Linked DNA regions of Homo sapiens. The protein of the gene in region 1 purifies or fractionates together with the protein of each later gene. This does not show direct contact. Each region holds a gene or a part of one and is shown in the gene's direction. Other genes may lie near its edges.

The links.
Region 2: the proteins of ZNF394 (region 1) and CTNNBL1 purify together in Homo sapiens (affinity purification with mass spectrometry; 2 studies listed by BioGRID and IntAct, with this or other methods). This does not show direct contact.

The regions. Positions count from the first base shown.
Region 1 is NC_000007.14:99,491,527-99,508,086, reverse strand, and holds ZNF394 (zinc finger protein 394), read left to right. Parts: upstream 1-7,805; 5' UTR 7,806-7,993; coding exon 7,994-8,449; intron 8,450-9,244; coding exon 9,245-9,371; intron 9,372-13,455; coding exon 13,456-14,558; 3' UTR 14,559-14,847; downstream 14,848-16,560. Other genes in the region: ZKSCAN5 (zinc finger protein with KRAB and SCAN domains 5), read right to left, coding at 1,629-2,042. UniProt on the Homo sapiens protein: May be involved in transcriptional regulation.
Region 2 is NC_000020.11:37,693,939-37,710,002, forward strand, and holds the start of CTNNBL1 (beta-catenin-like protein 1), read left to right. Parts: upstream 1-91; 5' UTR 92-184; coding exon 185-214; intron 215-988; exon of another isoform or gene 989-1,095; intron 1,096-16,064. UniProt on the Homo sapiens protein: Component of the PRP19-CDC5L complex that forms an integral part of the spliceosome and is required for activating pre-mRNA splicing.

The DNA.
Region 1 (16,560 bases):
ACCTCATGAACTGCCCACCTCGGCCTCCCCAAGTGCTGGGATTACAGGCATGAGCTACCGTGCCCGGCCTACACATGTATTTCTAAGCCAACAATTTTGAGTTTCAAGCATTCCTTCTACAGTTAATTTTATATACATATATTTTTTCAATTTAAATTTTTTTAACTTTTTACTTTTTTTTGAAATAGGGTATGCCTCTGTCACACAGGCTGGAATACAGTGGCAAAATCACAGCTCACTGCAGCCTCAAACTACCAGGTTCAAGGGATCCTGCTGCCTCAGCCTCTTGAGTAGCTGGAAGTATAAGTGCATGCCACCACACCCAGCTAATTTTTTGTTTGGTTTTTCTGGTAGAGATGGGGTCTCGCTATGCTACCCAGGCTGATGTGGAACTCCTGGTCTTAAGTGATCCTCCCACCTCAGGTGCCCAAAATGCTGGGATTACAGGTGTGAGCCACTGCGCCCAGCCTATATATATACATATATATATACACACACACATAAATATACACATATATATACACATATATATACATATATATACATATATATATACACATATACATATATACACACATATATATACACATATATACATATATACACATATATACACATATATACGCATATATATACATATATACGCAAACACATACATTATGTATATTACATACACACATATATACAGACATATATGTGAGATAGTCATTGCAGCAAAGTTTGTTATAATACAAATTTAGAAACAATCTCAAGGAACAATTTAAATGGAACAACTCAAACTCCTTCCATAAAAGTTAATACAATGCAATTTCAGAGAGTGAGATAGCTGCAATGGCAGTGGCGTGGAAGAAACCAAGATATAAGAAAAAAGAGGCAGAAGTGCACAGTGACTTAAAAGACATTTGCGTTTTTCCAAAGTATGAGACGTATATATGCTTATACATACAGAATATGGTACAGCTCTGTAAGAATACACAGGTGAGAACTAGGCAGTTGAGAGAAATTGGGGATGGGAGGAAAACTTACTTTTCATTACAACCTTATGTACCTCTTTGAATTTTGTATCATGTCACTCAAAAAATAAATACAGTGGCCGGGCATGGTGGCTCACGCCTGTAATCCCAGCACTTTGGGAAGCCGAGGTGGGAGGATCACGAGGTCAGGAGATCGAGACCATCCTGGCTAACACGGTGAAACCCCGTCTCTACTAAAAATACAAAAAAAAAAAAAAAAAAAATTAGCCGGGCCTGGTGGCGGACGCCTGCAGTCCCAGCTACTCCGGAGGCTGAGGCAGGAGAATGGCGTGAACCCGGGAGGCGGAGCTTGCAGTGAGCCGAGATCGCACCACTGCACTCCAGCATAGGCGACAGAGCGAGACTCCGTCTCAAAAATAAATAATTAAATAAATACAGTAATTTAAAAAATAAATAAGATCGCAGATTGTCTTCTACAGGTTAACACACTGGATATTGCTTCTCTTTGCTGGAGTGGCAGGAAGTCACAGGGTACCTAATCCCAGGAGAACAAAAGAATATGAATGAAGCAGCAGAGGACTAAGAATCTCACCCCTGCTCAGCAGATGGTTCACTCCTCTCCTTCATTGCTCATATAGCTTCTCTTTGACTCACCTGCTGTCTGCGTTCCTCAAGTTCTCGCTGTATATTTTCTATCACGGCCACCGCCTCTTCTCCACTTTCAGGGTGATGTTCCCTCACCCAGGGCTGGAACTCTTCAGGCAGGATGGTCAGGAACTGCTCCAGCACCAGCAGCTCCAGGATCTGCTCCTTCGTGTGCAGCTCGGGCCTCAGCCACTCACAGCAGAGCACCCGGAGTTGGCTGAGAGCCTCCCGGGGTCCTGAAGCCTCATGGTACTGGAAGTGCCTGAAGCGCTGGTAAAAAGTCTCAAACGTTGGCGGGTTGTACTCCTGCATCCAGGTGCAGTCTTCTTCTTCCACCTTCACTATGAAAAGGTCTTCCTGCTCCTGGGAAGTCTCAGCTGGGGGGTCTAAGTCTATAACTTCTCGGGATTCGGTCATTATCATTCCAACTCAGAGGGAAGTCTTCGAGGCTGGCTGTGTTACACTGAAACAATTGTTTTTCTGCTCTTTAATATCTTCTGAAGGACACTTTCAGTAGCATGCAACCTACTGATGTATTGGGCATCATTATTAGCAAAGACAGATGGCAAAGAGGTCATCTATACTAAAGACGACCACTCAACAAAGTAATTTACTTAAAAATAGGTACTACAAGGTAGCCATCACTTCACCCACAAAATGATAATAAGGAATAACCCCAACATTTTAAAAGTGTAAAAGAGAGCCATACAAATCTGACATCAGGCCCAACCTAAAACACAGTTTTAGAGTGAAGAACTTTACATTCCATATAAATAACGGGACGAGACTAACTAGTCCAGACGCAGCCGCTCTTTCTCTCTACCATAAGACGAACTTAAGTCGGAATAAGGGTGAAAATCATTATAATGGTCAAAACTGAGCCTGTTCTCTAAGCTACAAGAGCTTGACAGGCCAAGGGGAGACTCCATCGGTCCCAAAGAGAAGCAGCGTTTATAAGGTACAGATCTGGACCTGGATTCCTCAGAATGGCCCCTGACCCCGAGATACAGAGACTGTGGCCCGGTCAAGGTTAGGGACAGGACCCCCGTCCAGTCACGAAGCCCCTGCCCCCTCCCCTCAAGGCCCCACTCTAGGGGAGCTCTCCTGGAACATCAAGCTCCCCGCAGCCGAGGCTGGGAAGATGCGGTTCTTCCCACGGAGAGAAACCGAAGCCGACACTCCCCAACACTTCCTCGCCGGAAGTAACCAAGTCCAATCTTGCCCTGTCCAACGGGGTTAAACCGTTAGATCCCACCCCCCCCCGAAAGCACTTCCGCGTCCTCTCTAGGAATCCCGGAGGACCTCACCTCGCACGGGGGGCGGACCAATCGGCGGGGAGATGGGACGCGGGCCCCGAGTCCCAGCCCACCCTCAGTGACTCGGACGTCTCCAGGGCCCCCGAAGCCGCTCGCACAGCATCACCAAAGCGGGGAGGCAAACGGAGCCACTCTCTCCCCTGCTCCATCCCAAAGCCATTCAAACAGCCCAAGCTCCTCCCCTTTCCGTGGGGCGGGGAAGGGGGCGGGGCCTCCAGAGTTGGGCTGAGGTTGCTCGTGTCTGATTGGCCGGGGAGCTTGCGCCTTCCCCCACCCCCAACGCTCTGCGCCCCGATTTGAAGTAGGTCTGTACCTTGCTGACAGCCCGCAAACCTCGCTTATGTTGAATTTGGGGCCCTTAGGTTTTCTTCACCCGCATCCTCGCTACTCTCACCACCCACTTTCCAAACAAACCCACCTCTTGACCACCGCAGTCGGCTCAGAAGGCCGACATCTTCAACGTCACACCCGCGAGTCGCAGGGGCCAGCTGTTCCCGGAACTACATCTCCCAGGAGGTGGCGCGCGGGACTCGCCGGTTGGCCAATGGGGGGCGGCTCTCTTTGCAGCCTCGGTCTCGCGAGCCTATCAGAAGGTGGCAGGGCCCGGAGTCGTGTCCTCGGGAGCCAAGGCTGGAAGGCTGGGAGTGGGCGGAGGGAGCGGGGCATCCCTTTGAAGAGAGGGGCGTTGCTTACGCAGGGCTTCCCTGGCCAAGGGGGTCTCGTCCTTAATGATACCTCTCTTCAGCCAGGCGCGGGGTCCCACGCTTGTAAGCCTAGCTAGTGGACAGGCTGAAGAAGCAGGATCGCTTGAGCCCAAGAGTTCGAGACCAGCTCGGGCAACATAGCGAGACCCCTGTCTATTAGAAATACCCTCCCTTGGCCGGGCTCGGTGACTCACACCTGTAATGCCAGCACTTTGGGAGGCCGAGGTGGGTGGATCACCTGAGGCCAGGAGTTCGAGACCAGCCTGGCCAACATGGTGAAACCCCGTCTCTACTAAAAATACAAAAACTTAGCTGGGCGTGGTGGCGCGAGCCTGTAATCTCAGCCACTTGGGAGGCTGAGGCAGGAGAATCACTTGGACCCGGGAGGCTGAGGATGCAGTGAGCCGGGATCGCACCATTGCACTCCAGCCTGGGCAACATAGTGAGACCCCATCTCTTAGTAATAATCTCCCGTTTTTGTTTTGTTTTGTTTTGTTTTTTGAGACGGAGTCTCGTTGTCCCCCAGGCTGGAGTGCAATGGCACGATCTCGGCTCACTGTAACCTCTGCTCCCAGGTTCGGGCAATTCTCCTGCCTCAGCCTTTCGAGTAGCTGGGATTACAGGCACACTCACCACGCCCGGCTTATTTTGTATTTTTAGTAGAGACGGGGTTTCCCCATGTTGGCCAGGCTGGTCTCGAACTCCTGACCTCAGGTGATGCGCCCGCATCGACCTCCCAGTGCTCTCCTTTTCATATGGTGCTTTATAGTTTCCAGGCCCCAGCCCTCCCCTCCCCCTACGCCCCGCGCAGTTTACAAAGTTGATGGGCAGGCAGGAGAAGAGTTACTGTTGCCACTGTTTTACAGGCGCGAAGGAAGGAACTGCTGTGAAATTGCAGCATCTGCAAAAAGATGAGAAGATATTTAGAAGTTAAAGGTCTCTTTTCAGGGAGCCCAAAATCTTGCATTTTAAGTAGCTTCCTATCTAGGACCAAACCCCCGGTGAATGTTTGCAATGCCCGTATTTTGTGTGTTAGTGAGTTGGTATAGAATTTTGCACCTATGGCTTAATTTTGTTGCTCGTATAAAGTTGTTTAATGTCTATGAAAGTTGTTCCAGATGGGCATGGTGGCTCACGCCTGTAATCCCAACATTTTGGGAGGCCGAGGTGAGAGGATCACTAGAATCCAGGAGTTGAAGACCAGCCTGGCCTTTTTACCCCGTCTCTACAAAAAATAAAATAAAATTAGCTAGGCATGGTGGCACATGCCTATAGTCTCAGCTACTCAGCAGGCTGAGACTGGAGGATCACTTGAATTCAAGAGGTTGAGGCTGCAGTGAGTTATGATTGTGCCATTGCACTTCAGCACCTCAGTGACAGAGACACCCCGTCTCAAAAAAAAAAATGTTTGGTGGATACCCATTCTTTTCTAATATATTTACCTCCATTTAAATGATTTATTTATTTGTTTGTTTATCTATTTATTTTTTTGAGACGGAATCTCACTCTGTCGCCCAGGCTGGAGTGCCGTGGCATGATCTCGGCTCACTGCAACCTCCGCCTCCCGGGTTCAAGCGATTCTCCTGCCTCAGCCTCCTGAGTAGCTGGGATTACAGGTGTGTGCCACCACACCTGGATAACTTTTTGTATTTTTAGTAGAGATGGGGTTTCACCGTGTTACCCAGGATGGTCTCCATCTCCTGACCTCGTGATCTGCCTGCTTCGGCCTCCCAAAGTGCTGGGATTACAGGCGTGAGCCACCGCAACCGGTTTGAATTATTTATAAACACCTTTTGCATTTCAATAATTTATTTCTTAAATAGATAACACATTTGCATGAGTCAAAATTCAATAAGGCACTTAAGGTCTTCCTCTCATTCTCATTCTACATTCATTTTTCTCTCTAGAGATAGCCAAGATGACTAGTTTCCTTTTTTTTTTTTTTTTTTTTTTTTTTTGAGATGGTTTTGCTGGTTGCCTAGGCTGGAGTGAATGGCACGATCTTGGCTTAGTGAACCTCTGCCTCCTGGGTTCAAGTGATTCTCCTGCCTCAGCCTCCCGAGTAGCTGCGATTACAGGCATGCGCCACCATGCCCGGCTAATTTTGTATTTTTTAGTAGAGACGAAGTTTCTCCATGTTGGTCAGGCTGGTCTTGAACTCCCGACCTCAGGTGATCCCCTCGCCTCGGCCTCCCAAAGTGCTGGGATTACAGGCGTGAGCCACCGCACCTGGCTCCATAAGAGATATTTTTATGTCTAGTTATTAAACACACCTGGATTGATAAATAGTGTTCGGTTTGTTTGGGCGTGGGGTGGGGAGGGGGATTGCTTGAACCCAGGAGGCAGAGGTTGCAGTGAGCCGAGGTCAGGAAATCAAGACCATCCTGGCTAACATGGTGAAACCCCGTCTCTACTAAAAATACAAAAAATTAGCTGGGTGTGGTGGCACGCGCCTGTAATCCCAGCTACTTGGGAGGCTGAGATAGGAGAATCGCTTGAACCCGAGCGATACTCCCTCTCAAAAAAAAATTTTTTTATTTTTATATGGAGACACATCCTCTCTATGTTGCTCAGGCTGGCCTGGAACTCCTGGTCTCAAGCGATCGTCTCATTTTATGCAAGTTGCAAATCACCAGCAGCTTGACATCAACCAAGACACTTTGTTTTAGAGACAGAGTCTTGCTCTGTCACCCAGGCTGGAGTGCACTGGTGCGATCATATCTCACTGCAGTCTTTACCTCCTGGGCTCAAAGGATCCTCCCACCTCAGCCTCCCAAGTAAGTGGTGTATCCTGAGTTGGTTCCTTCCAGTGGGTTCATCCTCTCGCTGACTTCAAGAATGCAGCCTCCGACCTTCACTGTGTTACAGCTCTTAAAGATGGCACGGACCCAAAGAGTGAGTAGCAGCAAGATTTATTGTGAAGAGCGAAAGAACAAACCTTCCACAGCATGGCAGAGCACTCCAGCCGGTTGCCTCCGCTGACTGGGGTGGGAGCTTTTAGTCTCTTATTTGTCCCCTCCCATGTCCGTTTCTGTCGTATCAGAACGCCCTTTTTTCCATCCTCCCTGCGATTGGCTGCTTTTAGAATCCTGCTGATTGGTCCATTTTACAGAGCGCTGATTGGTGCATTTTACAAACCTCTTGCTAGCTACAGAGCGCTGATTGGTGCATTTTTACAAACCTCTTGTAAGACAGAAAAGTTGTCCAAGTCCCCACTGGACCCAGGAAGTCCAACTAGCTTCACCTCTCACTGGGACTACAGGTGTGCACCACCACACCCAGCTAATTTTTTATTTTTTGTAGACATTGGGGTCTCCAATTCTTGGCTTCAAGCGATCTTCCCCCCTCAGCCTCCCAAAATGCTGGGATTACAGGCATACGCCACTGAGCCAGGCCAGGACACATCTTTGAGCCTCAATTTCCTCATCTTTTTTGTTTGTTTGTTAGGATCAAAGTCGTTAACATCTGATGTACATGGAAGCACTTAGTTTTAAAAAAAAAACAAAACTTTTTCCAACTGGGCGCAGCGGCTCACGCCTGTAATCCAGCACTTTGGGAGGCCGGGGCAGGCGGATCACGAGGTCAGGAGTTCCAGACCAGCCTGACCAACATGGTGAAACCCCATCTCTACTAAAATACAGAAAGTAGCCGGGCATGGTGGCGCGCGCCTGTAGTCCAAGCTACTCAGGAGGCTAAGACAGCCTGGCGACAGAGCGAGAGTCCGCCTGAAAAAAGAAAAAAAAACAACTTTGTCCAACCTGGGCAATATAATGAAACCCCATCCCCACAGAAAAATTAATAAACCGGGCGTGGTCGCGCGCACCTGTAGTCCTAGATACTTGGGAGGCTGAAGCTGGAGAATTGCTTGAACCCGGGAGACAGAAGTTGCAGTGAGCCGAAATCGCGCCACTGCAGTCCAGCCTGGGCGACAGAGCCAGACCCTGTCTATTTAATCCTGAAGGTTCCCGCCCTTGCCGGAGCTCGGCCACCGGCTCGGACGCCCGTATTTCCTCGGGATGCGGGAAACCGTCAAGACCCTCTGCGTCGGGCGGGGCTAGGACGATAAACCAGCGAGATGCACCTCACCCCATCAGGCGCCTAGAGAGGCCCCGGAAATGCAGGGAAAGGTGCCGCAAGGCCTCGATGACGCGCTTCCGGCACGGGATGTTTTCGGTTGTTTGACCGAGAGAGTTGTAGGCGCAAAGCTGAGGAAAGGAGAGTGTGGAGAGGGGCCTGGTGTGGTGGGGCCCGGTGTTTGGGACCGGAGGGTGTTGACGGCTGATGAGTTCCTTGGGTTTGCTCTTTCTTCACCTGAAAAGAAGACTCCAGGAAGGGCAGCACATGCCGGAGAAAGATGAATTCCAGCTTGACCGCCCAGAGGCGCGGCAGTGACGCCGAGTTGGGACCCTGGGTGATGGCTGCGAGGTCCAAGGACGCGGCGCCGTCCCAACGCGACGGACTTTTGCCCGTGAAAGTGGAGGAAGACTCACCCGGAAGTTGGGAGCCCAACTATCCCGCGGCTTCGCCGGACCCCGAAACTTCTCGACTGCACTTTAGGCAGCTGCGTTACCAGGAGGTGGCTGGACCGGAAGAGGCGCTGAGCCGGCTCCGAGAACTCTGTCGTCGGTGGCTGAGACCCGAGCTGCTCTCCAAGGAGCAGATCCTGGAGCTGCTGGTGCTGGAGCAGTTCCTCACCATCCTGCCCGAGGAGCTTCAAGCCTGGGTGCGAGAGCACTGCCCAGAGAGCGGGGAGGAGGCGGTGGCCGTGGTGCGGGCTCTGCAGCGAGCGCTCGATGGAACCTCATCCCAGGTGAGAAGCGAAAGGCCTGTTCTGGAGGTGGGAGTGTGGAAAATAGGCGTTTAGGGGTGCTCTGCGTTTCGGAACTTACTTCCTTATTACATTTCGTGTGAACATTGGGGTGTGTATGGACTTCCTTTCTGTAGGCCACAGTGACAGATCCATCCAGGAAATGACTTGTTATAGACCTCAGCATAAAGCGAACACGGATTACTGGTTTTCTTTCTTTTTCTTTTCTTTTTTTTTTTTTTCTTGTTGTTCTTGCTGTTGTTTGAGATGGAGTTTCACTCTTGTTGCCCAGGCTGGAGTGCAATGGCGCGATCTCGGCTCGCTGCAACCTCTGACTCCCGGGTTCAAGCGATTCTCCTGCCTCAGTCTCCCGAGTAGCTGGGATTACAGGCGCCCGCCACCACGCCCGGCTAATTTTTGTATTTTTAGTAGAGACGGGGTTTCACTGTGTTGGCCAGGCTGGTCTCGAACTCCTGACCTCAGGTGATCCGCCCGCCTCGGCCTCCCAAAATGCTGGGATTACAGGCGTGAGCCACCGCGCCCGGCCTTGTTTACTTTTAATCTGTATCATATTTCCATTCCCATACATCACAGTGATATAAGTTAAAGAAATATTTTGCTCCTACCTACCTCCAAAATTAGTGTAAATAGTCCACAGAAAGGCTTTTCAGGATTACAAGAGAATGTCAGCCTCTATCTCTGATCTCTCCAAACTCCCTTGTCGGTACAAGACTCAAGAAGAGTGTTAGTGCTGTACAGGGACAGCAGGTACTGAATGGGGCTCTTGTGTTGTTCCAGGGGATGGTGACTTTCGAGGACACGGCTGTGTCTCTAACCTGGGAGGAGTGGGAGCGCCTGGACCCAGCACGGAGGGACTTCTGCAGAGAGAGTGCGCAGAAGGATTCCGGGAGCACAGTTCCGCCGAGTGAGTGCTGTTGCTCTGCTGGTTTATTGCGGTGTGTGGTTTGTGAAGGGCTGGTTCACTACCATCCCTGAGCCACTATGCCATTCCCAGACTTGGGCTGAGAGCCTTCAGGTGCCTTCTGTAACGCAAGCAGGAGCCTCTGTACTGCTAGGTGCTAGATTCAGCTTTTTACTTTGGTTCATTTTTAATGTTTTATACATACAGAAAACTATATAAAAAAAAGATAATGACCATCCCCTGTGTCTACCACCCAAGTTTATCAGATCTTAATACTTGGCCATATTGCCAAGGAAATAGTATGTTACAGCTGTAGGTGAGGCCCCCACATAGCCTCCCTGAAACCCTTCCCCTCTATCCTTCTCCAGAGGTAGCCAGTAAGCTGACTGTTGTGTTCATGACTTCCATGCATGTCTTATATTGTCTCTACATAGACACGTAGCTCCACGCTGTATATCATTACTGTATGGCTTTTTTTACTCAACATTACATTTTTGAGATTTACTCATGTTGATGCATGGAGCTCTACCTATTTCACGGTCCAGATACTCCAGAATTCTCTCCATTTCTGTTGATGGACATTTAGGTGTCTTAAGTTTTTAACCATTACAGCATTGCACCGAACATTCTTGTATATTCTTGCATATCTTTGTATATTTGTTTCTATGTTGGAGTTTTTGAAGAGAATATGCCTAGAGACAGGCAGTAGTCCCCCCTTCCTGGTTTTGCTTTCTGCGGTTTCACTTACCCACAGTACAATCAGATATTTTAAGACAGGGAGAGACCACATTCACATGACTTTTATTAAGTATAGCATTTGTTTTTCGTTTTTTATCTTTGGCTTTGGGGGTTTTTTTGAGATGGAGTTTTACTCTTGTTGCCCAGGGGGAGTGCAGTGGTGTGGTCTCAGCTCACTGCAACTTCTGCCTCCCAAGCCAAGCAATTCTCCTGCCTCTGTCTCCCGAGGAGCTGGAATTACAGTTATGCCCCACCATGCTCAGCTAATTTTGTGTTTTTAGTAGAGATGGGGTTTCACCATGTTGGCCAGACTGGTCTTGAACTCCTTACCTCAGGTGATCCTCCTGCCTCAGCCTCCCAAAGTGCTGGGATTACAGGTGTGAGACACCAAACCTAGCTAAGTATATTGTTATAATTAATAGTTACTGTTAATCTCTTAATGTCCCTAATTTATTAATTAAACTTGATTAAAGGGATGTACATATAAGGAAAAACATTATAGGCCAGGCACGGTGGCTCACGCCTGTAATCCCAGCACTTTGGGAGGCCGAGGCGGGCAGATCATGAGGTCAGGAGATTGAGACTATCCTGGCTAACACGGTGAAACCCTGTCTCTACTAAAAAATACAGAAAAAAGAATTAGCCAGGCGTGGTGGCAGGCGCCTGTAGTCCCAGCTACTCGGGAGGCTGAGGCGGGAGAATGGCGTGAACCTGAACCTGGGAGGCGGAGGTTGCAGTGAGCCGAGATCGTGCCACTGCACTCCAGCACTCCAGCCTGGGTGACAGAGCAAGACTCCGTCTCAAAAAAAAAAGAAAAAACATTTTATATATATATATACATATATATATATATATATACACACACACACACACACACACACACACACACACACGTATGTATGTATATACATATATATACACATATATATATAGGCTTTGGTACTATACACAATTTCAGGCATCACTGGGGGACTTGGAACGTGTCCCCACAGAGAAGAGGGAACAACTGTATGTTCATCTTGCTCTCCAAAGAGCCCATAACTAATGTATATGCCACCAGCAATACTAATAATTTTTCTTTCTCCATATTCTTGTCAACATTTGCTGTTGGCTGGGTACGGTGGCTCACACCTGTAATCCTAGCACTTTGGGAGGCCCAGATGGGAGGATTGTTTGAGGTCAGGAGCTCAAGACCAGCCTGGGCAACATAGCGAGACCCCATCTCTTTAAAAAAAAAAATTAATAAAAAAAATAGTAATACATTTTGGCCGGGCGTGATAGCTCAGGCCTGTAAATCTCAGCACTTTGGGAGGCCGAGGTGGGCAGATCATGAGGTCAGGAGTTCAAGACCAGCTTGGCCAACATAGTGAAACACCGTCTCTACTAGAAATACCAAAAATTAGCCGGACCTCTGATGCCTGATGTGCAGGGGCCCTGGCACCCTGCTCACCCACCCATCCCTTCTGCTGCCCTTTGCCTGCTCTGGCCACACTGCCTTGCTGCTCCAAAATATGCCAGGCCCCGCTGCCTCCTGGTCTTTGTGCTATGTGACCGCTCTGCCTGGAATATTCTACTCTACTCTGTAGGAAGCAAAGTTTCAGGGCTTTGCTCAAATTGCTCCCTTGTGCCGGGTGTGGTGGCTCATACCTGTAATCCCAGCACTTTGGGAGACCGAGGTAGCTCACACCTATAACCCTAGCACTTTGGGAGGCCGAGGCAGGTGAATCACTTGAGGTCAGGAGTTCGAGACCAGCCTGGCCAACATGGTAAAACCCCGTCTACTAAAACACCTACTAAAATACCTACTATAATACCTACTAAAATACCTACTATAATACCTACTAAAATACCTACTATAATACCTACTAAAATACCTACTAAAAATACAAAAATTAGCCAGGCCAGTTAATGGGCACCTGTAATTACAGCTACTCAGAAGGCTGAGGCAGGAGAATCACTTGAACCTGGGAGGTGGAGGTTGCAGTGAGCCGAGATCACGCCATTGCACTCCAACCTGGGTGACAGAGTGAGACTCTGTCTCAAAAAGATAAAATAAATAGGCTGGGTGCAGTGGCTCATGCCAGTAATCCCAACACTTTGGGAGGCCAAGGCAGGTGGATCACCTGAGGTCAGGAGTTTGAGACCAGCCTGACCAACATGGTGAAACCCCATCTCTACTAAAAATACAAAAATTAGCCGGGTGTGGTGGCACGTTGCCTGTAATCCCAGCTACTCTCAAGGCTGAGGCAGGGGAATTGCTTGAACCTGGGGGGCAGAGGTTGCAGTGAGCTGAGATCACTCCACTGCACTCCAGCCTTGGCAACAAGAGCGAAACTCCATCTCAAAAAAATAAAATAGCTGGGTGTGGTGGCTCACGCCTGTAATCGCAACACTTTGCAAGGCCGAGGGGGGTGGATAACAAGGTCAGAGGAGTTCGAGACCATCCTGGCCAAGATGGTGAAACCTCGTCCCCACTAAAAATACAAAAAAATTAGCCGGGTGTGGTGGTGGGTGCCTGTAATCCCAGCTACTTGGGAGGCTGAGGCAGGAGAATCACTTGAACCTGGGAGGCAGAGGTTGCAGTGAGCTGAGATCATGCCACTGCACTCCAGCCTAGGCAACAGAGCAAGACTCCATCTCAAAAATAAAATAAGATACGATAAAATAAAATATAGGCTGGGTGCTGTGGCTCACGCCTGTAATCCCAGAAGTCTGGGAGGCCGAGGCAGGCGGATCACGAGGTCAGGAGTTCAAGACCAGCCTGGCCAATATGGTGAAACACTGTCTCTACTAAAACTAGCAAAATTAGCACCTGTAATCCCTGCTACTTGGGAGGCTGAGGCAGGAGAATCACTTGAACCCAGGTGGCAGAGGTTGCAGTGAGCCGAGATCATGCCACTGCACTCCAGCCTGGGCAACAGAGTGAGACTCCATCTCAAAATAAATAAATAGCAACAGAGTAATACTCTGTCTCAAAATAAATAAATAGGGAGGCTGAGGCGAGCGGATCATGAGGTCAAGAGATAGAGACCATCCTGGCCAACATGGTGAAACCCCATCTCTAATAAAAATACAAAAATTAGCTGGGTGTGGTGGCGTGCACTTGTAATGCCAGCTACTTGGGAGGCTGAGGTAGGATAATCAGTTGAACTCGGGAGGCAGAGGTTGCAGTGAACTGAGATCGGACCACTGCACTCCAGCCTGGTGACAAAGCAAGACACCGTCTCAAAAAATAAATTAATTAATTAAAAAGTAAAAGGGGTTTGAGGGTTTAACATTCTGCCAGCACTTGCTTATTTCTGTGTTGCACAGGGATGCACTGGCAGGAATTTGTATTTTCACGTTTCAGGTTTGGAAAGCAGAGTGGAGAACAAAGAGTTGATTCCAATGCAACAAATTTTAGAAGAAGCGGAGCCACAGGGGCAACTACAAGAAGCGTTCCAGGGGAAGCGCCCCCTGTTTTCTAAGTGTGGCAGTACCCATGAGGACAGGGTGGAAAAGCAGTCCGGAGACCCCTTGCCCCTGAAACTTGAAAATTCTCCTGAAGCAGAAGGACTCAACAGCATCTCAGATGTCAATAAGAATGGTTCCATAGAAGGGGAAGACTCTAAAAATAATGAATTGCAGAACAGTGCCAGGTGTTCCAACCTTGTTCTATGTCAGCACATCCCGAAAGCAGAGAGGCCCACTGACAGTGAGGAACACGGGAACAAGTGCAAGCAAAGTTTCCACATGGTGACGTGGCACGTGCTGAAACCTCACAAGTCTGACAGTGGAGACAGTTTCCATCATTCCAGCCTTTTTGAGACCCAGAGGCAGCTCCATGAAGAAAGACCTTATAAATGTGGTAACTGTGGGAAGAGTTTCAAACAACGCTCTGACCTCTTTAGACACCAGAGAATCCACACAGGTGAGAAACCCTATGGCTGCCAAGAATGTGGGAAAAGCTTCAGCCAGAGTGCTGCCCTGACCAAGCACCAGAGGACACACACAGGCGAGAAGCCGTACACCTGTCTGAAATGTGGGGAGCGCTTCAGGCAGAATTCACACCTAAATCGTCATCAAAGTACCCACAGTAGAGACAAACATTTTAAATGTGAGGAATGCGGGGAAACCTGTCATATTTCCAACCTTTTTAGACATCAGAGACTACATAAAGGGGAAAGACCCTATAAGTGTGAAGAATGCGAGAAGAGCTTCAAACAGCGCTCTGACCTCTTTAAACACCACAGAATCCACACTGGGGAGAAGCCCTATGGATGTTCCGTCTGTGGGAAACGCTTCAATCAGAGTGCAACCCTCATTAAACACCAGAGAATTCACACTGGGGAAAAGCCTTACAAATGTCTTGAATGTGGGGAAAGATTTAGACAAAGTACACACCTTATCCGACACCAAAGAATTCATCAAAATAAAGTGCTGTCGGCTGGGCGTGGTGGCTCACGCCTATAATCCCAGCACTTTGGGAGGCCAAGGCAGGCAGATCATTTGAGATCAGGAGTTTGAAACCAGCCTGGCCAACATGGTAAAATCCTGTCTCTACTAAAAATACAAAAATGAGCCGGGCATGGTGGTGCATGCCTGTAAGCCCAGCTATTCGGGAGGCTGAGGTAGGAGAATCACTTGAACCCAGGAGGCGGAAGTTGCAGTGAGCTGAGATCATGCCACTGCACTCCAGCCTGGGCAACAGAGCGAGACTCCATCTCAAAAAAGAAATAAAGTGCTGTCATTTTGATATGTTTCTATGTGACTTGGCCTGTTTCTTTTCTTGTCCAGAACCACATTCCTTGCCATTTGGAGTATATCAGTCAATTATGGATCTTCCTTGAGTATCTCCTACAAGATAGGTTCAATCTGTCCTGAGCCTCATTACAGACTGATAGTTTCAGTGAGTGAGGAATGAGGAAGTAGGGGGCCTTCTGAAATGTGAGCTGATGCCAGGTAAGAGACTTCTGATGATAAGAGCCAGGCTGACATGTAACGGGGTTCTGTCCTTGTTATCTGCGCTCTACCTTTATGTATTATTTTTGAGACTGGGTCTCGTCGTAGCCCTCCAGCGGGAGCCCAGTGGTGTGATCGTGGTTCACTGTGGCCTCAACCTCCTGGGCTCAAGTGATCCTCTTGCCTTAACCTCCTGAGTAGCTGGGACCACAGGCACACACCACCACACCCAGCTTTTTTTTTTTTTTAAGAGATAGGGTCTTGCTATGTTGCCCAGGCTGGTCTCAACCTCCTGGGCTCAAGGAATCCTCCTGCCTCAGCTTCCCAAAGTGCTGGAATTACAGACACAAGCCACCACACCCAGCCTACCTTTATTTACTTTTTTTTTTTTTTTTTTTTTGAGATGGAGTCTCGCTCTGTCACCCAGGCTGGAGTGTAGTGGCATGATCTTGGCTCACTGCAACCTCCACCTCCTGGATTCAAGCAATTCTCCTGCCTCAGCCTTCCAAGTACTTGGGACTACAGGTGCACCATGCCATGCCCAGCTAATTTTTTGTATTTTAGTAGAGATGGGGTTTCACTGTGTTGCCTAGGCTGGTGGTGAACTCCTAAGCTCAGGCAGTCCGCCCACCTCAGCCTCCCAAAGTGCTGGGATTACACACGAGCCACCATGCCCGGCCTTTTTATTCACTTTTGAACCAAATCTTGCTCACTACAATTATTAATACTTGCCTAAGAATGTATTTTAGTCATTTAAAATTTGCCTTTGGCCTTAGATTGTAGAGAGGGTTTCAACTACTTCATAATCCCCAAAAGATCTGGTAAAGCTCAGTACTCAAAAGAAGCACTCTATTTTTCACTTTCCAGAAAACCTAATTTTGCATAGTCCCTCTTTCTTTCCCATTCTAGGAGCCTAGGAGTTCAGTTTTATGACTTGCTGATTTCTTTTTTTTTTTTTTTTTTTCTTGAGACGGAGTCTCGCTCTGTCGCCCAGGCTGGAGTGCAGTGGCGCAATCTCGGCTCACTACAAACTCCACCTCCCGGGTTCATGCCATTCTTCTGCCTCAGCCTCCTGAGTAGCTGGGACTACATGCACCCCCACCATGCCTTGCTAATTTTTTGTATTTTTAGTAGAGATGGGGTTTCACTGTGTTAGCCAGGATGGTCTGGATCTCCTGACCTCATGATCCGCCCGCCTTGGCCTCCCAAAGTGCTGGGATTACAGGCTGGAGCCACTGTGCCTGGCTTTTTTTTTTTTTTTTTTTTTTGAGACAGATTCTCTGTCGCCCAGGCTGGAGTGCAGTGGCATGATATCGGCTCACTGCAACCTCCGCCTCCCAGGTTCAAGCAATTCCCCTGCTTCAGCCTCCCGAGTAGCTGAGACCACAGGCACTCGCCACCACACCCGGCTGATTTTTTGTAGTGTAGTAGAGACAGGGTTTCACCATGTTGGCCAAGATGGTGTCTATCTCCTGACCTCGTGGTCCGCCCGCCTCAGCTTCCAAGTTTCTAA
Region 2 (16,064 bases), on another chromosome or scaffold:
CGCTTTACGGCGGCGCGTCCTTTTACCGCGGTGTGGCCGGCTCGCTTGTCGCTCGCACTTTTGCCCTATTGGCTCTGCGGCTCCGCTCGCCGCACTTTACGGCAGTGTGGCTGGAGCCGCGGCTGACGGGCCCGCGGTCTGGGCGTGAGTGCAGGGAAGTGGAGTATTTGCTGGGCCGGGTACCATGGACGTGGGCGAACTTCTGAGCTACCAGGTATGAGGGGCAGGGAGGGCCGAGCGACCGCGTTCTCACCTGGGCAGGGGTCGCAGGAGCCAGAGCCCTTTCATCTCACCTCCTCTCGCCTCACTCCCGGGCCCTCTAACTTCTCATGCCACCCGGGGTCTCAGCCCCTCGTTTTACTTTGCTCTCCGAAGCCCTCCTGGGCCCTTTCGATTCATCCCTTCTCAAGACCTGAGCCCTTCACCTCCTCTTCCTCACCCTGGGGCCTGGTTCCCTGAAACTCCTCTGAAACCCCAGACTATCCTTTTTTTCACAACCATGTCCTCTCAGCTCTCATGTCCCCCCAGTCATTGAGGTGATGGTGGTGGCGGCGGTGGGAGTGCACTGGTCTCACTTGGATTTGATCTCCAGCTTCTCCACTGACTGGCTATGTGGCTTTTGGACAAGTCATTCCCCCCCTCTTTGAACCAAGTTTTTGTATCTATATAGTGGAGACACTAATAACTGCCTTAGTAGGGTTGTTTGAGGACTGTACCAACTGATATGTATGAAAGCTGGTTTTAAAGTGTGGAAAGCTGTGCTTGTGTTTACTGCGATTTGCAGGAGATGTTGGGAATTCTAGCATGGAATGAGTTTCTAGGAATCTTGCTCAGGGTCCCCCTTGCCTAGGAAACTTGTGGGGAAACTGTATGGGACCTAGAGAGCAGAAAGGGCTTGTCCAAAGTCACTCAGAAACAAGGAGCTGGAATTTGAGCTCAGGCGTACTGACTTCCACCCCAAAGTTTTTCCCCCACTTTGATTCCATAGGAGGGTCATTGCGAGGAGCAGTAGAGCTGCACTGCCGAATGTCGTAGCCACTAGCCACATAGGCTGTTGATTGCTTGAAATGTGACTAGTCTGAATTGAGAAATACTGTAAGTATAAAGACACATTTGGGTTGGAGACTAGTATGGAAAAAGTGAAATTTTTATATTGATTACATGATCGTACTGATTATATCAATTACATTGGTTATTGGTCATATTGATTAAATGATCATATTTTGGATAATGGGTGAAATAAAATATACTTAATTAATTTTTAAAATTTTATTTTATTGTTATTTAGAGACAGGATCTTGCTCTGTCGCCCATGCTGGAGTGCAGTGGCACAATCATTGCTCACAGTAGCCTTAAACTCCTAGGTCTAAGGTATCCTCCCAAGTAGCTAGGACTGCAGGCAGGCATCACTATGCTTGGCTGATTTTTAAATTTTTTGTAGAGACAGGGTCTTGCTATGTTGCCCAAGATGGTCTCAAACTCCTAGCCTCAAGCAGTCTTCCCACTTGGCCTCCCAAAGTGCTGGGATTACAGGTATGAGCCACCACACACCACACTCAGCCAATAAAATATGTTTAAAACCAATTTTAACTGCCCCTCTTGACATTTTAATGTGTTTACTAGAAAATTTAAAACAACATATATAGTTCAGCTTATATTTTTGTTAGACAGCCCTGCAGTCAAGAATAGGTGATTAAGAGCCATGAGTCTGGACCCCTAGGTTGCTGGCAGTCTCTGTTTTGCTACTAACTGGCTGCTGTAACCTTGAACAAAATACTTAATTTCTCTCTGCCTTGGTTTCTTCATCTGTAAATGGGGGACAGTGACGGTAGCTGCCTCACAGGGCTGTTGTGAAGCTGTTGAGAAATGGAAAGTCCTTAGACAATGCTTGCCAAAGAGTAAACATTCAGTAAATATTAGCAGTTATTTTCATACCACTCCCTCAGCCAAAGTACAAGAAATTGACCCTGGACGCTTAAGACATCATGGGAAAGAACAGTTCAGCAATGGGGAGCTATATAGCCAAGAGATTTTTCTTTTAAAGACAGTTTAATTGATAGTGAAAGATGAAGGGAAATAGGCAAGTTATTAAATCAGTGATTGTATGCCGGCTTGGAATTTCTAGAATGGCTAGCCCATTAAAGCTAGAAGAGTTTCATTCATTTGCTCAACAAATATATATTGAACACCTACTGTGTGCAAGGCAGTCTATCCACTGGGTATACAACACTGAATAAAAGACAAGATTCTTGCTTTTGTGGAGCATCTGGTGGGAAGTTACAAGATAATAAGTAAACAATGCATTCAGTTTGTGGTAAGTGCTGGGAAGGGAATATAGCAGAGTATGCTATAAAATTGCACTGCTTTGTATAGTAGCCACTAGGCACATGTGATTATTGAATACTTAAAATGTGACTAGTTTCGAATTTAGATCTGCTACATGTGCAAAATACACACTGGATTTCAAAGATTTAGTATGAAAATAATGTACAATATCTTTTTTTTTTTTTTTTTTTTTTTTTGAGATGGAGTTTCACTCTTGTTGCCCAGGCTGGAGTGCAATGGTGAGATCTCAGCTGACTGCAACCTCTGCCTCTTGGGTTCAAGCGATTCTCCTGCCTCAGCCTCCTGAGTAGCTGGGATTACGGGCATGCGCCACCACGCCTGGCTAATTTTTGTATTTTTAGTAGAGATGGGGTTTCTCCATGTTGGTCAGGCTGGTCTTGACTCCCAACCTCAGGTGATCTGCCAGCCTTGGCCTCCCAAAGTGCTGTGATTACAGGCGTGAGCCACTGCCCCTGGCCACGTGAAAATAATGTACAGTACCTTAACTTTTATGCTGATTACATGTTGAATAAATGATAACACTTACGATATATTGGATTAAAGAAAATATATTATTAAAATTAATGTTGCTTTTTAAAAAACTTTTAAAATGTGGCTACTAGAAAATGTAAAGTGGGCCGGGTGTGGTAGCTCATGCCTGTAATCCCAGCACTTTGGAAGGCTGAGGCGGGTGGGTCACCTGAGGTTGGGAGTTTGAGACCAGCCTGACCAACATGAAGAAACCATGTCTCTACTAAAAATATAAAAAATTAGCCGGGCGTGGTGGTGCATGCCTGTAATCCCAGCTACTTGGGAGGCTGAGGCAGGAGAATTGCTTGAACCTGGGAGGTAGAGGTTGCAGTGAGCTGAGATCATCCCATTGCACTCCAGCCTGGGCAACAAGAGCGAAACTCTCTCTCAAAGAAAAAAAAAAAGAAAGAAAATGTAAAGTTAGGTGTTTTGTTTGTGGCTTTTGTTGTATTTTTATTGGACAACACTCCTGTCGAAAATAACCCCTGGGAGTTGGGGACAGGACCTTTTACTTTATGTAATGTGGTCGAGGAAGGACACAGAGGAATGGGCATTAAAGGACTGAAGGTTGAGAGGGACCCAGTCATGTGAAGGGAGCAGAATGATGGAGGCAGCAAGAACAGCAAGTATGGACATAGGCTATTGGTAGAAGCTGGTGCAGCCTCATAGGGGACCAGAAAGAGGATCTATGTAGCTGAAACGGGAAGTGAGCAGGGGAATGGTAAGTGACAAAGCTGAAGATGTAGGCATGTGACAAGACTATGTAGGCCTTCCTTGTGGGCCACGATAAAGACCTTGACTTTGAGAGATACGGTAGATACCTTCATTCAACCCACTTGTTCATGGATGAAAGTGAACCTTAGTCTGATAAAGGGACTCACCTGAGGTTGTGGGCCAAGATGGTGGCCAGAGTTGAAACTAGAATCCTGGTCTCCTTATTATTATTTTTTAATGTTTACACATCTTACCACATTTAATCTTAATGGCAGTACTTAATATGTTAATATAGGAACCTTCATTTTAAAGATGAGGGAATAGGTATAGAGAATAAAAAACGTGTCCAGATTCACACAAGTGAAATGTACCTCAAGGATTCCAATCTAGGTAGCTTTGCTTCGTGATCATAAACATTTGTTTATTGTGTTATTCCAAAAGTATTTCATTTTGTCAATCTGACCCCTTTCCCCCTCACCAAGAGCAAATATGCCTAGCGCCTACAGGTAGATTGGGGTTGCCACAGGCTAATTTTCCTGAACTGCAAAATATTACTTGCCTTCCTTATCCTGGATCTTGGCCTTTACATTTTCTATTGTATCTGAGGGTTCAATCTAAGAGTTTTAAAATGCAAATATGTTGGTTGCACAATAAGGAACTACAATACTAGAACTCATTTAATTCAGGTTGACAACACTGAACTGAACCAGTAACAGGGCTGAAACCTCCTAAGTCTGCTACTGGAGAGCACTTTGATCTCGCCAGCCTAGGGCGGGCATGCTCATGTCCAGCTGGCCAGCCAGGAGCATCTCCTTCCCCATCGCAGGTTCCCCACTTTGGTTAATTGGCCGGCTAGAACCATTCGAGAGGTGAGAGGCCCACCCGTTAGGCACCAAAAACCAGCTCTAGGCCTTTGCTCAGCGAAATATCCTCAATTCAAGGCTAAGTTTCAGAACCCAAATTCAGAATCATGGTCTAAGGCTTGGAAAGCAGCACCAGTCCCAAAATCCACCTCAGGACCTTATTCAGGCCCTGGCTTCCTTACACCACCTGGCCCTTATCTCAGAATCCTGGTCTCCTTATTTCCAACTCTGTACATTCCCCATGTGTTCTGTTCATTCAGTTTTCTTTTTGTAAGATCCATGTCCACTCTTCCTGTTCCTAAAAGATGGTAAAGGCTGGAATGTAGTTCATAATCAGTTGCACCCATCCTCTTGCAGAAAGTCATGAGTTTATGGATGCAAAAGTTCTTTGAGGCCAAGCGTGGTTGTTCACCCCTGTAATCCCAGCACTTTGGGAGGCCAAGGCAGGCGGATCTCTTGAGTCCAGGAGTTCCAGACCAGCCTGGGCAACATGGTGAAAACCTGTCTCTACAAAAAGTTTAAAAATCAGCTGGGCATGGTGGTGTGTGTCTGTGGTCCCAGCTACTTAGGAGGCTGAGGAGGGAGGATTACTTGAGCCTGGGAAGCAGAAGTTACACTGAGCCAAGATCATGCCACTGTGCTCTAGCCTGGGTGACAGAGCAAGACCCTGTCTCAAAAACAAAAAACAAACAAACAAAAAAACTCCTTGAAAACAGTAACATTTTATAGACATGAAAGATGCTTTACTAACCAGCATGATCTATCTAAATCCTCATAACAACCCTATGAGGAAGGTACTGTTGTTAATCCCTGTTGTACAGATAAGGAAACTGAGGTACAGAAAAGAGCACCTACCTTAAGGCATCTAGCTAGGTAGAGGCAAGTCCAGGGTACCCGGGTAGTCTTACTTCATAGTTGGAGCTCCTAACCACTGTGCCATACTGCCTGCCTGCTATATGCCAGATGCAGAACCAAAGTGTTTTCAGACAAGTTATCACATTTAATTCTCAACATGCCTTCTGAGGTTGGCAGCATGCCTGTATTATAGGAAAGGAAACTCAACCTAGGGAGGTCAAGCTGCCTGCCGAAAGCCAGACAACCAGTAAGGAGCAGGGCCAGAACTGAAACCAGCTGAACACTCAGAGGTAGTTTTCCATTTTGTTTTCAGATTTGAAAACTTTTTAAAGTTGAAGTATAGTCCACATGTTGAATAATACATACATCTTATGAGCCTTTGGTTATAGTTATCATTTACAAAGTAGACTCAGTACGACCACTGAAGTTTGCTTCTCAGGGACATAAGGGAACAAAATTGTCTGATTTGAACATCCCCATCCCTAGAGTTTGATTCAGTCTCCTGTGGGACTTTAGATTCTGCATTTCTAACCAGATCCCAGGTGATGCTGATGCTGTACTTTGTGATCCCCTGGTCTAAAATGATCTCCCTTCCTTGAAAAATTTTCCCCAGCTGAGACATTCTCTTCCTCTCTTGTGGGCATTGGTTTGCAGATTTTTGAGCTTAAGTTGTACTTTTTCCCTGCCATTCAAGATATTGAGAGCAAATCACTTAATCTTCCTGGGCCTCAGTTTCCTCATATGCCTAATGAGGGGATTAAGTACGCGACTCTCTCTGAGGCCCCTTCTAGCTTTAAAATTCTGTGGTACTAATTATTTAGACCGGGGCTCCAGAGATTTCAAGGGATAAAAACGCTTCATGTGGTAGACTGAGTGGGGCTGAGAATCTGGGAGATTTGGGTTTTAATCCCACTTTTATCATTACTTATCTGGGTGACTCAGGACAAGTCACTTTCCCTTTCTATACATCATTTTTTTTCAATCGCTTGTAAAATGAGGAGACTGAGCGATATGACTTCTGGTTCTTTTCATTTCCAAAATTCAGAGACTAAGATGGATGCCGTTTCTAAAATTCAGAGACTAAGCCAGGAAAAATATCATGCAGTGTCAAGAAATGTTTATTAAAAGTATTTAACATTTTTTGGGTGCTTACTACATTTCATTTTTGGGGCGACTTGGTGGGAAGATTCCAATTTTCTGCTGAGATTGGTTCTTCTACAAGTAATAGAGATAGGCACTAAGCGCCTCAGTATATGCCGTATATCCTTGACATATGTTAACTATTCATTTGAGAAGACAGGAGAATTACAATATGGGCAGGAGGTGGTGGAAAAAGTCTTCAAGAGGGAACCAGTTATGTTCCCAATATGGAAATGTACTTTTTTGATGCCTTCAGGCTTAGACATCTCATCAAGAAGTGTGCCCAGCAGTGCCTTGGCTGAGAAGTTTCTGCTGGCATAGGCGCATATATGAACTCCAGGGCACTCTCATTAAATCTGATTCCACAGATGTCTGGAAAAAGTTCTTACCTCTGAAGTTTTCCAATAAAGAATTCACATTTAGTATGGCTTGTGACATGAGATGTATTCTTTTTGAGGCAAATTTGAGGCTAAGGGACCCTTGGTTTTGGTGATATTGCAGACACCCACTCCTCTTGTCCTCTATCAGTAATATCTTAGCATATCTCTTGGATTGCAGGAGCTTACAGAAATATCTAAACTTGCTCCTTTCCCCCTCCTAGTTTTTTCTTTTGAAATAAAATTTTAAATGATAATAAAGTGATAGAAATAGTATTAAAGAAAATGCTTGAGAAGAGGAAAACTATTATCCTAATTCAATCAATATTTTTCTGTTCCCACAGTCCTTACGTATTTTGTGAGGCTAGAACCATTGCATATATACTACTTTATGTTCTATGTTTTTAATTTAACATTGCCAGGAATATTTTCTGTGTTTCTACATCTCCTTCATGTTATTTTTAATATTTGCATACTTTTTGCTTGAGTGATAGACCATTTTCCCTAAATTGTTCTTCTACAATTGGATGTTTAGGTGGTTTTCCGGTTTTTGTTCTTGGAGATAACATTGTAGTGAAGTGCTTTGTTCATGTAGCATTTTTTTCCTTCCCATCTGTCATTAGTATTTACCATGTGCCATCTCCTGTGCCAAGTATTGCATGCACTAAAATTATTATGACATGGACCATGGACATTAAAGAAGAATTCATAATGTAAGGAGCAAGACAGACATTTAGAAAACTAACTCTATGAATAAAAGTATTATGGGAGCACAATGGAAGGAACGGTTGGATATGGAAAGGGGATATATCGATGGGGATGGATTTGGTTTGGTCATTGAAGAAAAGGGAGATGACACTGGAATCCTAGCCTTGATGAATGGGTAGGGATTCTGTGGGTGGTAAAGGACACTGGGGACAGTGATTCTTGACTGGCATTATTAAGAGCAAAAGCAGGGTAGTGAAATGTTCAAAGCATAGGGTAAATGCAGCAATGGGTAAAAAGCAGGGAGTGGTCGGAGACGATGGGGGTCATCTCAGCTGCAGATGTGTGGCGTAATACATCGTACGCTCATCTCAGCTGCAGATGTGTGGCGTAATACATCGTACGCTCATCTCAGCTGCAGATGTGTGGCGTAATACATCGTACGCTCATCTCAGCTGCAGATGTGTGGCGTAATACATTGTACGCTCATCTCAGCTGCAGATGTGTGGCGTAATACATCGTACGCACGTGGAATGAATCATTGGTTGTTTTACAGTGCTAACAGTATACTGTTTGTGTGTGTTCCAATTTTATTACAACCTTTTTTTAAAAAATAGAATCAGGGCCTCCCTGTGTTGTCCAGGCTGGTCTTGAACTCTTGGACTTGAGCTATCCTCCTGCCTCAGTCTCCTAAAGTGCTGGGATTACAAGCGTGAGCCACTGTGGCTGGCCCCAGTTTTATTACAATCTTGATAGTACTAGTTCATAATTTATTTTTTCCACTAATCTACTAGGTATATTAAATACTAGTTCAAGGTTGCTTTATTAAGCATTATTTTCTTCTTGTGTGAGTTTATCATTTGTATTATTATGTGCCTCATAAGGTAGTCATTGTAATTTCGTAATTGAGTTTTTCTGTTATATGGGTTTTTTGGTTGTTGTTGTTGTGTGTATAAGAAACATTACTGAAAATCTGAAAACTGGTGCTCAGATACATCCTTCATTCTGTGAAGGCCTCATCCCAGTAGCCCTAAGAATATGATTCTAATCATGAAGTCATTTTATATAGGCTCTTTTTGCATGTCAGTTTAGTACATTTTGAAGTTACTTTTTGTTGGAAGTGTGACTCTAACAGATAAGGAGGACCAGAACAGATACAGAGCTATTCTCATTGATAACATTTCAGACTGTTTTTCTCTTTCATCTCATGAGTGATTTTTTTCCTTAAGTTCACTTCCTCCCTCTGCGTTCTTCTCATCATCTCTTTCTTCTGGCCCATTCTTCTCACACTTACAAAACACATTCTATTTATATGCCTCCTTACACACACTTTTTACTAAACTGTAGACTTAGAGGCAAGGACCAGCACCTAGCAGAGCATCTCAACTGTAGTTAATGTCTAATACATGGTTGTTTAATGATTGAATGAACTGGGACATGCCTTTGTATATGCCCTGGTTGTTTCCCCTTCTGGAAAGCTCTTGTTCTACTATCTTGTTAGCTTGTTGGCCTACATCTCTGTGCTTTCATGTCAGACTTCAAGAAAATTGGGTTCACAACTGATACTTCAGTTGCTTAATCATTTTCCTCTTCTTTATTATCATATCTTGCCACTCTTGCTACAAAACCTATATTCTTTGCTTTTTAACTTTTTATTTTGAATTTTAAACTTAGAAAAAATTATAAAAATAGTAGAGTTTCCGTATATTCCTCATCCAGCTTCCCCTAAAGCTAACATCTCATATAACCATTATGTAAAGATCAAAACTAGGGAATTAACATTCGTGTAATACTAGTAACTAAACTGCACACTTAATTCACATGCCATCAGAGATGTCTGGTCATTTTTCTGTTCCAGGTTTCTATCCAGGATCCCACATAATGTTTGTCATATTTCCTTAGTCTTCCGTTATCTTTCATGTTGAAGAGTACTGGTCAGCTATTTTGTAGAATGTCCAAAACCTACATTCTTGAACTTGTCAGTGCTGTCTTTTGCCAAAGATTTTCTTGGGCCTCATTATTCTGGAATCTTCACTAGAATTTGACTCTGTAACTCTCTTCTTCATCATTTTAGAAGAACTCATTCATTCTTTTCCTTTCAGCATCTTTTTGCAGACAGCTCTTAGTTCACCGTCCCTGATTAATGTTTCGTGTGTGTACTGAACATTCTGGCCAGATGTTCAGATATCACATAATTCTCTGCTTCCTCCCCTGCCTATCCCCATGGCCAGCTTTGCATTTCAGTCAGGGGTGTTGATGTTCAGCAGACTTGAAAGGAGCCTTGGAACTATTTCTCAAAGATGAAACGGCTCAAAGATGAAAGACAAGGTTCTTTACTTTTTTTTTTTTTTTTGAGACAGAGTTTTGCTCTTGTTGCCCAGTGCAATGGCATGATCTCGGCTCACTGCAACCTCTGCCTCCTGGGTTCAAGCGACTCTCCTGCCTCAGCCTCCTGAGTCGCCGGGATTACAGGCATGTGCCACCACGCCTGGCTAATTTTGTATTTTTAGTAGAAACGGGGTTTCTCCGTGTTGGTCAGGTTGGTCTCGAACTCCTGACCTCAGGTGATCCACCTGTCTCGACCTCCCAAAGTGCTGGGATTACAGGCATGAGCCACCGTGCCCGGCCATGGTTCTTTTCTTCATGGTTGGTACAGGCTCATGAGCACAGAGCCTGCCTCTCTCTCAGAGTAAAGAAGGTGTTAGGATATGAAAATGATTAACTCACAGTTTTTGCTCTCCTGGAGCTTGCAGTCTAATGGGGTATACCCCAGATTTGAAATCCAAGTATAGAGTGTCAGTGCTGTCAGGGCTGTTATGGTGCCATGAACAAGATGTGGTGGCACAAAGACACAAGCAGCTCTACTGCTGGGAAGTTGGAAAAGGCTTTATGGAGGGAGCGCTGCACCTTCAGGAGTCTTCTCTCCATCCCTTCCTTTCTGTTCCAACCGCCACCACCTTAGTTTAGACTCTTAAAACTTTGTTGACAGGGTGTAGTGCTTCACACCTGTAATCCCAGCACTTTGGGAGGCTGAGGTGGGAGGATCTCTTGAGCTCAGGAGTTTGAGACCAGCCTGGGCAACACAGTGAGACATCGTCTCAAAAAAAAAAAAATTTGCTGGGTTTGGAGGTGCGCGCTTATAATCCCAGCTACTGGGGATGCTGAAGTGGGAGGATTGCTTGAGACCAGGAGATTGATGTTGCAATGAGCGGTGATCACACCACTGCACTCCAGCCTGGATGACAGAGCTAGATCCTGTCTCAAAAAAAAAAAAGGGAAGACTGTCAAATAAGTAGCCTCCTGGGTGGTCTTACTTTTATCATTGTGGATCTCATATTGGCATGGTGAGATCCAACAGAGGCCAACAGAGAACACTGTTCTTCAGTCATAGACTTCAGTCCTACCTAGTTCAGCTTCCTTGGAGACAGGTCTTCTTACTAAGTTGCCTTGCTAATTTTGAAGGTGAATTTGGTGAAGACAGCCATGTCTTTCTGCAGTCTCTCAGTAGTTGTCATTGTTTAAATTGAGGGATTGAATTTATAAGGTTTAACCAATTAGAGAAGTTTTCGTATATAAAAATGACTTCATTGGAGAATGTGGATGGTTCACAATAGCTTGTCAGCACTGTGGGAGAAAATACTTCAAAGCCTGTTAGGCATCCCTTAATGTTTAGCTTAGTGCATGAACATGAACTCTGGGTCAGATGGCCTGCATTGGAATCTCAGCTCTGCTACTTGCTAGCTATGTGACCTTGGGTCCATTAATTAACCTCTTTAAGCCTCAGGTCTTCATCTTTAAAATAGAGATTGTATAATAGTGTCTATCTCTGCCCAACCATCTTTAAAAAAATTTCTGCTTTACCATCTTTCTTAAAAATAAAGGATTAAATGAGACAATTTGGATATTGCTAAGTAGTACAGTGCCTGACACATAGTGAGTGCCCAGTAAGTGTTACCCATTAATTTTCGTTATTTATCTCATTACTAACAACACGCATGCTACAGCAACATGGCAAAAAAAAATTTTTTTTTAATTCTACAAAATTGCCTCAGTATTCCCAAGGTCATTGGTCCCTTGGAGATTAAGGTTCAGAATCCTGTATAAAGAAATGAGAACAGTTTGTTACCCACACATGCTACAGTATAGAAATGTTCACAGTAGGTTAAAATACAACTTTATTATATCAAGAATTATGTCATCACCATAGTAATTATTTTCCCGTGGTCTCTTTAATATTACTAAGATATCTCAGTTTTCCTATTTTCTAGCGCCAAGAATCTCGTTTACAAATTACTCCTTCCTTTGTCTTTTTTTCCCCTTAGTGTCCCTAAAGGAAGTGGTTGGGTTTGGTCTGAGTCTTGTGTAGCTGTAGAGAAATTGGAATCAGGAGAAGATGTAGTAGGAATTCTGATACTGCTTTTACCTTCTCCAAGGTCAGCCATTTACCTCTTTAGTATTTCAGCTGAATATTGGCATCCCTTGGAGATATTAAGGGTTTGGTTCCAAACCACTCCAGTAAAGCAAGTCATACAAATCTTTTGGTTTCCCAGTGCATATTAAAGTTCTGTTTATACTATACTGCAGCCTAATAAGTGTGCAATAGTATTGTATCTGAACAATGCACATACTTTAATTAAAAATGCTTTGTTGTTAAAAGCTGCTAACCATCATCTGAGCCTTCAGCAAGTTATCTTTTTGCTGGTGGATGGAGGGTCTTGCCTCCTTTTGCTGGCTGCTGACTGATTAGGGTGGTGTTTGCTGAAGGTTGGGGTGGCTGTGGCAATTTCTTAAGACAACGATGAAGTCTGCTCCATCTGTTGGCTCTTCCTTTCATGAAAGATTTCTCTGTAGCAAGCTGTGCTGTTTCATAGCGTTTTACCCACAGTAGAACTTTTTTCAGAATTAGAGTCAGTTCTCTTAAACTGTGCTGCCAATTTATCATCTAAGTTCATGTAATATTCTAAATCCTTTGTTGTCATTTCAACAATGTCCACAGCATCTTCACTAGGAGTAGAGTTTATCTCTAGAAGCCACTTTCTTTGCTTATCCTTAGGAAACATTCCATTCAAGTCTGATCATGAGATTGCAGCAATTCAGTCACATCTTCAGGCTCTGCTTCGAATTCTAGTTATCTTACTGTTTCCACCACATCTGCAGTTAGTTCTTCCACTGAAATCTTGAACCCCTCAAAGACATCCACGAGGATTGGAATCAACTTCTTCTAAACTCCTGTTAATGTTAATATATTGTCCTCCTCCCATGAATTATGAATGTTCTTGATGGCATCTAGAATGATAAATCTTTTCCAGAAAGTTTTCAATTTATTTTGCCCAGATCCATCAGAAGAATCACTATCCATGGCAGCTATAGACTTATGAATGCATTTCTTAAATATTAAAGAATAATACTTGAAAGTTGAAATTACTCTTTGATCCATGGGCTGCAGAATGGATGCTGTGTGTGCAGGCATATAATTAACATTCATCTCCTTGTACATCTCCATCAGACCTCTTGGGTGACCAGATGCATTGGCAATGAACAGTAATATTTTGGAAGAAATTTTTTTTTTTCTGAGCAGTAGGTCTTAACAGTGGGCTTAAAATATTCAGTAAACAATGCTGTAAACAGATATGCTGTCATCCAGGCTTTGTTATTCCATTTCTAGAACACAGGCAGGGTAGATTTAGCATAATTCCCAAGGGCCCTAGGATTTCAAAATGCTAAATGAGCATTGGCTTCAATTTAAAAGTCATTAGTCCCTAAGAAGAGCATCAGCCTGTCCTTTGAAGCTTTGAGGCCAGGCATTGACTTCTCTCTAGCTGTGAAAATCCTAGATGGCCTCTTCTTCCAACAGAAGGCTGTTTTGTCAACATTGAAAATCTGTTGTTTAGTGTAGCCACCTTCATCAATGATCTTAGCTAATTCTTCTGACTAACTTGCTGCAGCTTCTACATCAGCACTTCTGGGTTCACCTTGCGCTTTCATGTTATGGAAGTGGCTTCTTTCCTTAAGCCTTATGAATAAGCCTCTGCTAGCTTCAAACTTTGTGTGCAGCTTCCTCACCTCTCTTAGCCTTCATAGAACTGAAGAGAGTTAGGGCCTTGCTCTGGATTAGGCTTGGCTCAAGAGAATGTTGTGACTGGTTTGATCTTCTGTCCAGAGCACTAAGACTTTCTCCATATAAGCAGTAAGGCTCTTTAGCTCTTTTACTATTCATATGTTTACTGGAGTAGCACTTTTAATATCCTTCAAGAGCTTTTCCTGTGCATTCACGCTTTTCTGTCTGGTATAACAGGCCTCGCTTTCGGCCCATTGCCGCTTTCAACATCCTTTCCTCACTAAAGCTTAATCATGTATAGCTTTTGATTTAAAGTGAGAGATGTGAGACTCTTTCTTTCACTTGAACACTTAGGGCCATTGTAGGGTTATTAATTACTTAATTGCAGTATTGTTGTGTCTCAGAGAATAGGGAGACCTGAGGAGAGAGAGAGAGAGAGAGAAAGAGGAAAGGCTGGTTGAGGCACTCAGAACACACACATTTATTCATTAAGTTCGCTGTCTCACGTGGGCGTGTTTGTAGTGCCTGAAAACAAAGTAGTAATATTAAAGATCACTCATCACGGATTACCATAGCAGATATGATAATAATGAAAAAGTTTGAAACATTGCAGTAATTGTCAAAATGTGACACAGACATGAAGTGAACACATGATTTTGGAAAAATGGCAGCGATAGACTTTCTTTTTTTTTTTTTTGGAGGTAGAGTCTGGCTCTATTGCCCAGGCTGGAGTACAGCAGCAGGATCATGGTTCCCTGCAGCCTTGACCTCATGGGCTCGAGCAATCCCAGATTAGCTGGGACTACAGGTGTGTGCCACCATGCCCAGCTAATTTTTGTATTTTTTGTAGAGATGGGGTTTTGGCATGTTGCCCAGTCTGGTCTGAAACTCTTGGGCTCAAGTGATCTGCCCACCTCAGCCTCCCAAAGTGTTGGGATTACAGGTGTGAGCCACCGCGCCCAGCTGATAGACTTTCTTGATGCGGGGTTTCTATAAATCTTCAATTTGTAAAAAGCACAGTATCTGCAAAGGGGGAAAAAAATGAGGTATGCTTGTAGTTCAGAACTAGTTTCTTTTCCATAGAATTCCAGCAGTGACTGATCTGAAAATGTTTTAGCCTAAACTTTAGAATTCCAGCTCCATTGTGGGTTGGTAAATGGAAATTAGCTTTTCTTCATCCTGGAGTTCAGTGAAGGATCTAGTGAGACTACTGCAGTGCCTTTCTATCTTTTAACTCACTTTGGATTATCAGCTGCTTGTAAGCAGATTATGTGCACTGGCTCTTTGTACTTCCTTTCAACAGCTACCCAGCAATATCTAGAGTCACTGAACTAAGAAGGAGTTGAAACTGGCCAGGCGCGGTGGCTCACACCTGTAATCCCAGCACTTTGGGACGCCGAGGTGGGCGAATTATGAGGTCAAGAGATCGAGACCATCCTGGCCAACATGGTGAAACCCTGTCTCTACTGAAAATACAAAAATTAGTTGGGCATGGTAGCATGCACCTGTAGTGCCAGCTACTCAGGAGGCTGAGACAGGAGAATTGCTTGAACCTGGGAGGTGGAGGGTGCAGTGAGCCGAGATCGCGCCACTGCACTCCAGCCTGGCAACAGAGCAAGACTCCGTCCAAAAAAACAAACAAAAAAAAAGAGGGAGTTGAAACCAAGCAGAGTATCATGATGCTTCTCTCTGAATATATCTGACTTTATTCCAAAAGCAGGCATGATTGATTCTTGAACAGTTTTGCTGGCATTATTTTTAGTGCAGATTCTAGCTTCATGTTTGGCATTATTCATGTGCTCATTCTGTTAATACATAAAATTGAGGGTTGATGACATTTCTTTATTTGAATCCCCTATTTCCAGTTAAGAGCATCTCAGTTTAAATTTTCTTTTGGGATCCTTGATAGAGTTAAACATTAGCAGCACACCAGTCCTCTGCTGGTATATAATGTTGGAATGCGATTTTCTTTGCAGCTTTGTATAAAAAGAAACAAATTGTAGCTACAGTTTGTCATGTTATCTTTTAGCAGACGCTCTCAACATCAATGCTTCCATAATAGGATTAATGATGGGGGAAACTTTTGAGCATCTCAAGCTTGCATAGTTATTCACAGAGAAGCTGAAACACGTAATGGGGGCTCTGGCCAGGAGTACCTCTATTGGGCAAGGGAAGGTAGAGATGCCGAAGGACTAACAGAATAGTGAAACTCGGCAATAAAGGAGGACACGAAAAAGACATTGCGATTGATTGAGGGTTGTAGCTGAAAGAAACCCATAATGAGATTCCTTTTTTAAAAAAGGTGGCACAGATTGTATTGAATTGTACTAACTTCTTGTTTCTCTGGTGTCTTTGGAAAATGTGATGCCCTTCAGAAACAGACTTTCCAGGTAACTGAAGCTTTTAAGTGGCAAGACGATCTATTCCAGCTTCTTCTTTGTACACATGGGTAAACCAGAGAGCCCAGAGAGGGAAATAACTTTAGCACCCCAACAA